2 separate regions of the Homo sapiens genome follow, and region 2 is linked to region 1. The links come from fine-mapping of genetic effects on gene expression. Tissue or cell type: whole blood. Region 1 holds a variant in brackets; the other region holds the start of a gene. All regions are shown on one strand. Distances are between the middles of the regions.

Region 1 (2,685 bases):
CTTCTGACTTGTAAAGTAAGATTGTCTTCCTTGGACTTAGAGAACCCCTTAGCTTTTTGAAAAATTCAAAGGAGGAAGGCATAGGAGGTAGCCCCAGGGGACAATACAAGATTTTCTGCTAAACTGGATATTTCAAGACCCAATAACTAATTAGAAAAGTCAGGCCAGGCATGGTGGCTAGCAGTTTGTGAGGCCGAGGCAGGAGAATCACTTGAGCTCAGGGACATGGGCAACATAGTGAGACCTTGTTTCAAAACAAAAGAAAGAAGAAAAAAAGTAAAAGATGTGACGTTATTTATATCTCACATATGAGGGTTATACTTGGAATAAAATGAACAACACTGAGATCCCTAGGGATAAAGGTCTTTAAAAGTCCTGAAAGAATCTTGCATTCATTGCTACTTCTAACTAATCTAGCTTTCTGTTTGATTTCTGGCTAAAAAGTGGACTAACTTGTTGCCATTCCAAACTACCTCAAACAAACTATGAACTGTCACCTAATGTATAAGATGCAATATTTGTAATTATTTTAAACCTTAATTTAGTATTAACTGGTCTTTTAATATAAGCACATACCTTCTGAAATTATAACAAACAGCATAATCCTCGGCAGTCTGGCCAAACAGGTCTTGAGAAAAGATATTTATATTTTGTTGAAGGAGGAGGCTGACGATACTTGATGAGTTATGCTGTACTGCAAGCATGAGGGCTGTTCTAAAATAATAAAGAAATAACAGCACTCAAGAACTTTAATAAAGATATTTCATTAGCAAATTGGATACACTTCACCAATTTCGTATCTTGCCTGTCAGGATAGACATAATAACCATATACATGTACTAGCTTATGTGTATAAGCATCTTGGGTGCTAAAGTGTTCATCTGGGTAAATTACCACCAAGACTAAAAGGCAGGGACAACAAGCAAGCTTCATGTTCCATTGGGATATGACATAATACAAGTTGCTAATTTATAGTCCTTTGATGGCCAAGAAACTGTGCTGAGGTCACTTATCTAAAGTAGGCAAAGATTTAGATGAAGATTTCCCCATTGCTTTCCTAGTCTGATACAGTGTAATTCAAAATCAGCTAGGGATCAAATAAGTAAGAGCTATCTGCAGGCTTAAAACAACAGCAATAATAATAATAATAATAATAGTAATAATAATAATAATAATGGTAATAGTAGTAGTTGTAAACTGAAAGTTAAAGTCTACGCTTTATAAAATTAATAAAATACAAAACCCCTTTAGCTAATATAAGATTACAGGACCAAAAATATCAGATTACAAGTAACGGTCTATAAGAGAAGATGAATCCTACTATATACTGTTTTTTATGTTTCTCAGTCCAAATAACTGCTTTTCTACCTAACTGATTATTCATGTTATTTTTTACTATATGCCAATAGTTATAAGTTAATCTTATTAACATTTCTGACTTGAGTGACTGTTACCACTCTAGAACATTCAGGTTTTTAGG[A/G]AAAAAAAAAAACAAAAAACAAACAAACAAAAAAACCAAAAACTATTGCACCTTCTGAAATTGTCAATGGCATGTAAATTTGCCTGGTTCTTCAACAGAAATTCCACAATTTGCTGTCTCCTAGAATTTATAGCAAACAAAAGTGGAGTGTTTCCCTCCTGTAAAAAGCAAAAACAATTTATAATTCACAAAATTACGTATTTCTTAACTGAACTAAAAATCTTCTATAAGATGCTATGAACTTAAACATGCAATATAGAGAGAAAGTAAATGCAAAGCAGTCCCGTCCTTTTCACTCCTCTGTGCTTTCCCACACACTGCCTTGAAACACCCCTCCTCTGCCTCCCCACGTTAACTTCGGTCATCTCCAAAACTCACTATGTTTACCAATCCCCAAAATCCTTGCTTCTATCTCAGCATTTAGCACAGTACATTGTAATTATTTCATTGTTTCCCACTGAAACCAAGAACTTCTTGAGGGCAAGGGCTGTATCTTTTTTCTCTATAACCCTAAAACTTAAGACATAGTAGCGAATGCTTTACGTTTTTAAAATAAATTAATGATCTAAATTATTATCTTTAGAGCAGTGTTTCTTAAACTATATTTCAAAGAATATTTGTTTTACCAGAAGAACTGTACCCCAACAAAAAGATTCCACGATCATCTGCATTTGAGAAGTATTACAAAACTGTATTACATGGCCAACAATCTAGAAATCCCTTGAACTTTGCCTAATCTCAATTTGACAATACTTTTTGTGGCAAACATTAACATTTTAGGAACTAGAGTTTCAGGGATCCTGTTGCCAGAGCTTCCCAGTACAAGTGGAGGTTTCCTCTGGGTGGCACAAACTTGCTTGATTCACTTCTATCAATGGTGTCAGGATGCCAATGTCAGGCACTCCTGGTCCAAAGGGGCCACTAAGGAAATGAGCTGTGAATTAAGAGAGATTGGCTTCAAATGCACTTATTTTCCTTATTATTAAATAGTCCATGGGATTTTTCCTAATACAAGAGGATAGATTTTTATCTTAACTATTAGAAAGTTCAGTATGTTCTGTGTAAGAGAGACCAGTTAAAAATTTTTGAAAATAAATATTAAAAAGCAAAGCTCAGTAAGAAATTTTATTCTCAATTATAATGATAATCCTGGGATGCTAATGCAACTTTACTTTTTAAATCCATTTGTATTGGTTTCCATTTAA
Region 2 (2,685 bases), 59 kb before region 1:
CTTTCTATTCTTTTTTTATTCTGGAAGAGACTGGATATAATTCGTGTTAACCTTTAAATGTTTGTTAGAATTCTCTGATCTAGCTATCCAGGCCTTAAGATTTCTTTTTCAGATATTTCAAATTATGACTTCAGTTCTAGGGCTATTCAACATAACTATTTCATGTAAGAGAGAATTTGTGCTTTTTCAAGAATTAGTGCATTTCATCTATGTTGTGAAATTTATGTTTGTAGAGTTGTTTGTAGTATTCTCTTTATTCTTTTGATTTCGTCATGGTCTACAGTGGTATCTCCTGTTTCATTCTGGATATTGATATTTTGTGTCTCCTCTACAGATTTGTCAATTTTATTAACATTTACAGAACCAGCTTTTGTTTAATCGGTTTTTCTCTATTTTTCTTTTTACATTTTATTGAGTCATCTTCTTATCCTTATTATTTCCTTTCTTTCACTTGCCTTCGGTTTATTTTGCTCTTCTTTTTCTAGTATGTGAGGGAGCTTGGTTATTGCTTTGAAATTTTTTTCTTTTCTAATGTAAGCCCTTAGTGGTATATACATTTTTCTCTCACCACTGATTTAGCCACATCCCACAAATTTTGATATGTTGTGTTTCACTGTCATTCATTTCAATGTATTTTAAAAATTCATTCACTTTCACTTTCATTCATTTCAATGTATTTTAAAAATTTGAGACTTTCTCTCTGAACAATGGATTATTTAGCATGTGTTTTCACGTGTTTGGAGATTTTCCTTTTATCTTCCTGTTATTGATTTCTAGTTTAATTCTATTGTGTTCAGAGAACAAACTGTATGATTTCAGTTGTTTCAAATTTGCTGAGATTTGTTTTATGACCCAGGTTACTTCATATCTTGCTAAATGTCCCATCGACACGAATAAAATGTGTATTCGGCTGCGTTTGCGGTGTTACATAAATGCTGATTAGTTCCTGTTGATTAACAGTGTTGTTGTGTCCACAGAAGCATTGGAGAAAGACTGTAACCTGAGGTGATAGGCTTTGATTGTGTCCTGGCTTAGTATGATGGGACACACCTCTGCTTGCTTCCTTTCCTTTGGACAACCCTCAGCCTCTCAGTCTCTACATGACCTCAACATGGCCGCCCACAGGCCAGAGTGTCTACATGGGCGCCGCCATACTGGCGCCCAGCCTAAGCCGCTGAAACGGGAGCGTGTTTGGCAAAGCGCCATGTTGATTACTGGCAACCTTCAGGCCATGAAGACTGCTGAGCATGCGCAAACCCAGGCAGCGCTGTAAGAAGTACCTCTAGGCCTGGGAGGCATTGAGAAAAAGGAAGTGGGTCCTGTTCTGGTTCTTGCGACTATAGTCACCTCCCGAGGCAAATGACCACTGTCCTGAGAGGACGTGGGTGAGGGGCAGGTGAGTAGAGGGATGGCAGCATCTGTGGACTGAGCAAGAAGAATCTCTGATGTCTGTCCTGAGCCTTCCGGTCAGTGATGGGGTCGGTCAGTGGATGGAATAGTGGAAGTCGGAGCGATCTCTGATGGTGGATCTGAGGGAGGAGTGAGGGGGCACTGAGGGGTCTCTGGTGGTGGATCTGCAGGCGGAGTGAGGACGGACTGGGGGTCTCTGTCTGGTGGTGGATCTGAGGGCGGAGTGAGGGCGGACTGTGGGGTTGTGGGGGAGGATGACTATGGGAACTAAGGAGGGATCTGAGGAGTGTGAATGATGCACATCTTAATTAGTTTCCTCTCTTTTATACGTACCGATCTGTTTATATTTTCGTTTCTGTTTCATTATAATGATATATTTTGCTAAAGATTTAAAGAATATATTACATAGAATTGCATGTTTCCATTTCCATTTTGTTCTCTTTCATATCCAGACTAGTAGCTCCTTTATCATTACGGTTATTATATTTATATATCATTCATTCTTTCTCTATTTAAAAAGAATCAAGCGTCTGAAAGGTTTATCTGTTTCATTGGACATTTTGAAATGTCCAATAAAATACTCCCTACTCTTTTAATATTAATTTTTTTCTCTTTTTCTTTTTAGGTACTTTCTCTTTTTCCCACTTTTTGATGTAATTTGTTGTTCTTTCCCTTATTTTCTTAAGTTTTATGCGGGATACATTTAGGGTTGTAAAGTTTCTTTAAGTACATCTTTATGAAATGCATAAGTTCATTTTGATGTTTCCCTTTGAATCTTAGTTATTTAGGAGAGTTTATTCATTCCCAAATTATTAAAGTATGTTTTAGCTGTTTTTTATTTTATTGTATTGTCAGAAAATGCAGACTATCAAGTCTCAACTTTTAACAATTTATCAAGATTTTCCTTGAAGCCAAGTTACTCAATGAACTTTGTTCAACAGATATAAAAGAAAAATTATATTTTGTTGTATGGACCAAAATTCTCTTTAATTAAGTCTTGCTTGTTGGTATTTTTCAAATCTTTATCTTTCCTAATTTTGATCTACTTGTTTCATATTCTGGAGGAGATACAATAAAAATCACTTTTAATAGTTCATTTTGCAGTTATATGTGCTTTTTTGCTAATTTTATTTGTGCATCTGAGGGATGGGCATACATACACTTAATGGTTAGTGCATTTTTTATCCTTTTTCATGTATTAAGTGGTATTATTATAGGATCCCTTTTTTCAACCAAAAAGAAAAAAGAAAAACACTTTTTAACATCGAATTCCAA

The links. PIP is the estimated chance that this variant, and not a neighbour inherited with it, causes the effect.
Region 2: ZNF484 starts here. The variant in region 1 is fine-mapped to the expression of ZNF484 in whole blood (INTERVAL, PIP 0.98).

The regions. Positions count from the first base shown.
Region 1 is chr9:92,817,271-92,819,955 of GRCh38, reverse strand. It overlaps the pseudogene ANKRD19P. Among named protein-coding and RNA genes, the nearest start is that of BICD2, 54 kb to the right of the region's middle. The variant A/G (reference allele first, on the strand shown) is at 1,481.
Region 2 is chr9:92,876,601-92,879,285 of GRCh38, reverse strand. It overlaps ZNF484 (zinc finger protein 484), which reads left to right and starts at 1,248. Exons shown (of 5, transcript NM_031486.4): 1 at 1,248-1,396. RefSeq lists enhancers at 1,005-1,444, 958-1,493.